Linked DNA regions of Homo sapiens. The protein of the gene in region 1 interacts with the protein of each later gene in a pairwise test. Each region holds a gene or a part of one and is shown on either strand. Other genes may lie near its edges.

What was found. The genes of interacting proteins can lie anywhere in the genome.
Region 2: the proteins of CFAP184 (region 1) and TPM1 interact in binary tests that used the Homo sapiens proteins (3 or more experiments, as listed by UniProt).

Annotation. Positions count from the first base shown.
Region 1 is NC_000004.12:7,040,349-7,044,440, forward strand, and holds CFAP184 (cilia- and flagella-associated protein 184), read right to left. Parts: upstream 2,654-4,092; 5' UTR 2,591-2,653; coding exon 923-2,590; 3' UTR 501-922; downstream 1-500. Other genes in the region: TADA2B (transcriptional adapter 2-beta), read left to right, coding at 3,232-3,501. UniProt on the Homo sapiens protein: In complex with CFAP263, acts as a regulator of ciliary beating that connects radial spoke 3 (RS3) to the inner dynein arm (IDA) and the nexin-dynein regulatory complex (N-DRC).
Region 2 is NC_000015.10:63,056,247-63,059,746, reverse strand, and holds part of TPM1 (tropomyosin alpha-1 chain), read right to left. Parts: intron 2,763-3,500; coding exon 2,629-2,762; intron 185-2,628; coding exon 67-184; intron 1-66. UniProt on the Homo sapiens protein: Binds to actin filaments in muscle and non-muscle cells. Plays a central role, in association with the troponin complex, in the calcium dependent regulation of vertebrate striated muscle contraction.

The sequences.
Region 1 (4,092 bases):
AGTAGACTGAACTCCCTTTCATTGAAAAAGGGACGATGAAGAAACATCAGCTCCTCTCCTGTTTATCATCTCTCCTGTTTCCTGGATATTTTTATTGCCCCCTAAGCTCGTGCTAGTCACATATAAAAAAAATTTTTTTTTGAGACAAGAGTCTCGCTCTGTCGCCCAGGCTGGAGTGCAGTGGTGCGATCTCAGCTCACTGCAAGCTCTGCCTCCAGGGTTCACACCATTCTCCTGCCCCAGCCTCCCGAGTAGCTGGGACTACAGGCGCCCGCCACCAGGTCTGGCTAATTTTTTGTATTTTTAGTAGAGATGGGGTTTCACCGTGTTAGCCAGGATGGTCTCGATCTCCTGACCTCACGATCTGCCCACCTCGGCCTCCCAAAATGCTGGGATTATAGAGGTGAGCCACCTAGCCCGGCCCAAAATCACTTAAATTTAAGATTAATCTAAGGGGATTAGTGAGCTTCTAACTGAAACAGTGTCTCGGGACTACATAATTTAATAAATCCAAAGAATTTAATAATTAGCTTAATGCACAGGGTTTTTTTGTACCTTGCCCATTCGCTGAACTTTTAAACCCTCCTACATATGAAAGAGGAACAGTACTCTTTAGTATTACATCACTGAAATTATAGAATTGCTCAGACTTGAGACTTTTGACAGTTTTTCATGAGAAGTCAGTTACATTAAATCACCCTTTGTTTGCTTTTCTGGACCTATTTTTGCTCAATCCCAGATAAAACTCCTAACCCAGGTTTGGGCTCAGCACTGATTTGGAAGCTAAAACGTTTTGAGATAAATACAAAATAGAGTCCCGTCCCAAATGACACAGGCCTTTTTAATAGCAACGAAGGTAAAATAAAGCAGGACAGCACGTCCTGAGGATGAAGTGTTTTGCAGACTCTTCTCATCGATCTGGTCAAGAAGGGAGAAAGGCTTTGGCCTCCCTGATCTTCTGCCTCACGCCTCTGCAGGACAAAGTGAGGCTAGCGTGGTGGCGCTTCAGGGATTCCAGGCGCCGGTGAAGCAGTTCGGTCTTGTCCACCTTTTCTTCCAAGTCCCGAAGAAGTGAGTCCTTGCCTAGAAGGCCGCACTTCTGATTCAGTCTGATGTTGTCCGTCCGCAGCCCCTCTCGGGCTTGCTTCGTCTTGGTCAGGATGTCTCTTCCTAGGGCGGCCTGGGCCTCGATTTCTGCCAGCTGTGTCTTTTTGCACGCGTTCTCCATGTCCATGAAGTGCAGCTTTTCCTTCACGTGGGTTATTACTTGCACACTGTTGGTCACCTTGCTGCGAAGTTTTAAAAGTTCCTCATTTCGTTCCTCAATTTTCTCATTGAAGGTTTGGTTCTCAATCTTCAGCTGTTCAAAGTCAATAAGAAGCAGACCCTGGGTCAGGTCCTCCTGGGTCCTCATCCTGGTTTCAAAATGCACCAGGCTCTGCTTCAGCTGAATGTTCTCCAGCCGCACGGCGCTCATCTCCTTCTCCTTTTTATCCTCCAACGCCTGGATCTGCTCCACCTCTCGCAGAGCAGCCTGGCGCCCGCCCCTCATCCGACAGCTGCCCATGGCCTGCATCACCACCTGCTTCTTGAGTGCCTGGAAGCGTCGCCACTCCTTCTCCACCCTGGTGAGCTTCTCCTGGCACTGCCGCTTCAACTGGCCCAGCTCCTGGTGGTACCACTGCAGGTCGTCTGCCTGCTGCTTCTTCAGCTCCTCCAGCATGCCCAGATGGCGCAGGTACGCTTGCTCTTTCTCGGGGGCCTCGGCCTCTGCGCCCCGGTCAGCCACCTCAGCGGCCTCCAGGCCCTTCTTTCTGCGCAGCGCCTCGAAGATCTTGTGCTGCAGGTATAGGTTGTAGCGCTGGGAGCGGTTCCGCTCCACCAGCAGGGAACGGTACTGGTCCAGGAGGTCGCTGCGCAGCTGCTGCTCCTGCAGCTTCTGGACCTCCTCGGACCACTCGAGGTCCTCAAACTCGTCCCTTCCATAGAGGCGCTTCCCCTCTTCCTGGCTTTTGGCCGGGCGTCCTTCCCCATCCCTCTCCTTGCTCTCCGCGCCGTCTCTCTGCGTCTCCTCCTTGTCCTCTTCCTCCCCCTCCACCCGCTCTGTCTCGGCCTCCGGGGCTGCAGCAGCCTCTTCCTCATCGATCCTGGTCAGCGGCAGAGAGGCCTGGAACCTGACTTCCTTCCCCTCTGCCGCCTGCTCCAGTTCCTCCGCCCCCGCCTCCGCCTCTAGTTCCTCGGGCCCGGCTCCGGGCTCCGGCTGGGCGGGCTCCTCAGCCCCAACCTCGGCCGGCTCTTCGGGCTCGGGCTGGGGCTCGGCCGGCCTCCCCGGCTCTCCAGGCCCCTCCTCGCCCGCAGCCTCGGCTGCCGTTAGCCCTTTCGGGGCCTCGGCCTGCTCGTCCGCGGCGGTGCCTCCCTGCGAAGCCGCTTGCTCCTCCTCCTCCTCCTCCGGCTCCGACTCCAGCTCCCCGGGTTCGGGAGAGGTCGGAGGGCCAGAGCTGGCCTTGATCTTGGACGGCCGCGCGGCCAGGCTTTCCCCGTCTCCGCCTTCCCCGCCGGGGTCCTTAGTGTGCTCAGAGCTGACGTCCATCTCCTCCCGGCTCGGCCAGCGCAGCGGACCCCGGCAGGACGCTGTTAGGTTTCCCGGGGCAACAGAAGGCGCGCGCGCTGGGCCCGGCGATTGGCCAGGCGACAGGCCGTCGTCCAGCGCCTTCTCCCCGCTGCCCGGCGAGAGCAAGCCAATGGGAGGCCGCGAGCTGACGATAGGCGAGATTGATTGGAAGCGGCCGTGGGCTCTCGCCGCGAGGGGCGTGGCGCCCCCGCCGGGCTTTCTGCCTGCCCATTTCCCACCGCCGGGCCTGGGGCGGGGCGTTCAGGAGGCTCTGGGAAAGGCGGCGGTGGCCGGCGCGGGGGGCGCGCAGGCGCAGAGCGGCGGGCCGGGCGTCCGCAAGGTGGCGCCCGCGGGGCGCCTGCGCGATGCGGCGGGGCGACAGCTGCGGCGGCGGTGGCGGCCGGGCCGGGCCGGACGGCGCCTGCGTACTGAGGGGGGACGCGGCCCGGCTGGCTGGCTCTGGCGGCGGCTGGGCTGGGGCCGCGGTGGCGGCAGCCGCGGCGGCGGGCGGCGGTTGCTCGTGCGCGGCGGCGGCGGCGGGTCCCGCGGGCGGCGGGGCGCTGACGGCCGGGGGCGCGGCGGCTGCGGCGGGCCGGGCGGCGGGCGGCGAGCGGGGGAAGATGGCGGAGCTGGGGAAGAAGTACTGCGTGTACTGCCTGGCCGAGGTGAGCCCGCTGCGCTTCCGCTGCACCGAGTGCCAGGACATCGAGCTGTGCCCCGAGTGCTTCTCGGCCGGCGCCGAGATCGGCCACCACCGCCGCTACCACGGCTACCAGCTGGTGGACGGCGGGCGCTTCACGCTCTGGGGGCCCGAGGCCGAGGGCGGCTGGACCAGTCGCGAGGAGCAGCTGCTGCTGGACGCCATCGAGCAGTTCGGCTTCGGAAACTGGGTGAGCGGCGCGACGGGGGCCGGGTCCCGGCTAGGGCACTGGAAGGCCCGCGCCTCTCCTGTAATCGGGCGCGCAGGCAGCGCTGGACCTGCTCGCTCGCTCCGCACCCCAGAAGGCCCCGGAGGTGGGGAGGGCGACGCTGCCGGTTTATAGTCGGGCACCTGTCGGAACCTATGCTCTGAGAGGCTGTGACGCGCCCAAGGTCACACAGCCGAGACGGGGCCGAGTGGGGCTTTGAACGCTGGCTTCTGACAGCAGAGCCATTTCCCTCACCTTCAGGGACGCCTTCACAGGCGTTTGCGGAGTGCAGACGTTGGGCAAGACTCGGTGCCTTACCTGAGTTCGTGGAGACAGGCAGGCCCACAGACTCGACAGAAAGCGGTGGGAGCACCAGGGAAGGAGAGCGGTGGGCGCCCTGCGGCTTGTCTCGGGGTCTCTGGGGCGGCCCCGTTTGCTTTCTGTCACTGTATGCATGTGCCCTGTGTGGTCCGCAGTGCACAGAGTCTTTTGTGGGTAGCGTGCCTGGTTTATGCTTGGGTCCCCACAACCCACGACCTTGTGCGAATGGTCAGTAAAGAATGAACAAAGAGG
Region 2 (3,500 bases), on another chromosome or scaffold:
ATTGCTCCCTGGCTTCCTGAAGGCCACTGCTGGGTGTCCACAAGGCTTTGGGCCCCAGGATCTGACCTCTTCATATTTGCGGTCGGCATCTTCAGCAATGTGCTTGGCCTCTTTCAGTTGGATCTCCTGAATTTCCATTTTTTCTTCATCTTTTTGGGCTCGACTCTCAATGACTTTCATGCCTCTGAAAAGAAAGACAAGCAAGAAAACCCAAGATTTAGAGCTGAACTTCCCAAATGCACACTGCACTGCTGTGGCTTGTGAGGCTTAGTGTAAGTGGTAGACCAAAATAGAGCACAGAGCTACTTTTATTTTCCAAACCAGGAAACAACAATTTCCAGAGCTAAAGGTGGAAAAAAGAGACACATTTCTCTCTGTTCACTGTGAATGAACTCTCTCACTTTGAGTACTGATGAAACTATCAGGCATCTAACATTAATGATGACGAAAGGTACCACGTCAGGAATCTGTCTGAATCTTGGCAGTATGAAACCGGAAAAGCCAATATGCTTTACTATTAAAAAGATAATGAGATTTCTTGCCTTTCCTGTGGGAAGCCTCAGCTTGCACATGAACCAAAGCTAGAACAAAATCAAACTTATCTTTATATACCTCTTTCTACAAAGAATCTTCTTACCCTGCCACCCATAAACAAAAATATTAGACTTAATGTTAGATTTAATAAACTATTAAGTCCACAAAGAATGCTGATATTTGACCATTTCAGACAAGTAATAATGGCAATTTCTTATGGTTCAACTGAATGCATCAAATTAAGTTTTACCTATAATGGAACCCTTTCATGACAGCAATGCTGGGAGACAGGCCTGACACTGTCCTCTACACTGAGTGTATTAGGGTCCTATGGCATGGTGTATATTAGGGTCCTATAGCGTGGTGTAATGTTTCAGAAAAATACTAAATGACCTATGATATTTTACAGATATATGGAATAACAAGTCATGTAAAATGGAATTCATTTATCAAAATTTAAGTAGGCAGTATAAGTGAACCACTATTTTTTTATTTTTATTTTTTGAGACAGAGTCTCGCTCTGTCACCCAGGTTGGAGTGCGGTGGTGTGATCTTGGCTCACTGCAACCTCCACCTACTGGGTTCAAGCGATTCTTCTGCCTCAGCCTCCCGAGTAGCTGGGATTACAGGTGTGCACCACCACGCCTGGCTAAGTTTTCTATTTTTTAGTAGATTTAGGGGTTATGCCACGTTAGCCAGGCTGGTCTCGAATCCCTGGCCTCAAGTGATCTGCCCGCCTCGGCCCCCTAAAGTGCTGGGATTACAGGTGTGAGCCACCACATCTGGCCCACTATCTTTTGATGAAGCATTGGAATACAGTTGAGGAGATCTGGGTCGGAGTCTTGGCTTAGCCACAAATATGCTGTGAGCCTTGGTGCAAGTCACATCAGCCTCTGAGCCCTACTTTTCTCATTTGTAAAACTAAGGGACTAAATGATCCCCAAGTCCCCTTTACTCCGAAGTCTAACATTACCAGACTGCCTTTAAGGTACACTAACAAGTATATTTCAGAAAGAAGTCAGCCACAAAACTGCTCTTATGCGTACACTGTAAGATGCTTAGTCATCTTAAAGAAGTCCAAAATGCTTGGTTAGCGAAGAAACACTAAGCAGCGGTGAATAATGGCCTAAAAAGTTTAGCTAAAAATCTTCTTTAATCCTAAAGTCTGAAATCACTCTTTATACCTGGTACCTAGTGGTAGGGTCACTTCAAAGAGTAAGAAATGGACAAGATGACTGACTGCATTCACTTGCCCAGGTCACAGCACAGACAGATACACATTCAGTGCTCTGAGCCCCTTCATGCTATGCCATCCCTCAAGCGGCAGAACGCTCTCTCACCTCATGGAGTCTCTCTTGAAGTACTTCTATGCAATATGGCAAATCCTTACTTCCAACAGTTGAGCTTAAGGGAAAATGCCTTTTAGACCACACAAGGCTGTGCTGGTCTATACGAACCATGCTTTCCTTTACTACCACAAAGCTGAATCTGAGTAATAATTCAGCTACAGCCAGATTACAGTGGAGGTGGGCTCAGAACACACGAGCATCTGACTATTTGTGTGCATGTGTGTTGTGTATATTACTAAGACCAAGTCCAAAATATTTTACTTTTGCAGACCATGTTTCTGCTTTGTGTTTTTTCTTCCACCTATTTGTTAAGCTATTTTGACAACTGATAGTCCACAGTTCCTTTATTTACACCTAAGCCTCCTTGTATATTATAAAATAAAGTTACACTTTAAAAAATGCACAATTGCTCTGTGGTCAGTAGGAGTGAAAGGGCCAACTTGTATCCCTGACATTTCTCCTTTACATGTCTGTCTCCCTCATTAGATGGTGAGTTCTGTAAGGGCAGGAACAAGATCATCTTCTTCTTTGTAACCTTAGGGCTTAGGACAGTGCTTTGGACATAGTAGGTGTTTCACTAATGCTAAATGAACAAAACCAACCGAGTTATACCTGGGATCAATAGAGGAAATGATCCCACCACCAGGGGACTGAAAAATTCTTAAACCTCAAAGATCACAGGAGCCCTCCGGTTTATTCCACCAGGAAAGGCAGCTGCAAAAGATGGCTGATGAGGCATTCTCACCTCTCACTCTCATCTGCTGCCTTCTCAGCTTCCTCCAGCTTCTGCAAAGCTGTTGCCAGACGCTCCTGGGCACGATCCAACTCTTCCTCAACCAGCTGGATGCGTCTGTTCAGAGAAGCTACGTCGGCTTCAGCCTAGGTAGAGAGTGAAAAGCATTTCAGAGTTGGGGAGAAAGTGAGGGTGGTAGCTTCAGGAAATGGCTGGGACTGCAATGCTGATTTCAGATAGGAAGACTGTCTTGTGGTGAGCTACCTTTAAGTGCATTACAAGCCCTCATCAACTCTGGAGTTCTCGGACACATTTACACATTGATTTATACAGTGAACATCCATATTTGTGTATACACAAATCTATACACACAATTCTCATCAGACAGACAGATCATTAGCAAACGCTCTTTCACATGGTTCCTTTCTTCCGTAGATTTTTTTGTTTTGTTTTGTTTTGTTTTTGAGACAGGGTCTCGCTCTATCACCCAGGCTGGGGTGCAGTGGCACGATCTCAGCTCACTGCAAACTCCGCCTCCTGGATTCACGCCATTCTCCTGCCTCAGCCTCCCGAGTAGTTGGGACTACAGGCGCCCGCCACAACGCCCGGCTAATTTTTTTGTATTTTTAGTAGAGACGGGGTTTCACCGTGTTAGCCAGGATGGTCTCAATCTCCTGACCTCCTTATCCACCTGCCTTGGCCTCTCAAAGTGCTGGGATTACAGGCGTGAGCCACTGCGCCCGGCCCACTTCCGTAGAGTTCAACACCCTGGCTTTACTTGCCTGTTAAACAAGAGCGTCATCACGGCCACCTCACTCACTGGGGGCCTGAAGTGTGAACTGAGACAAGACTTACCCAGGCTCAGCCATGTAAGACAATAGCAG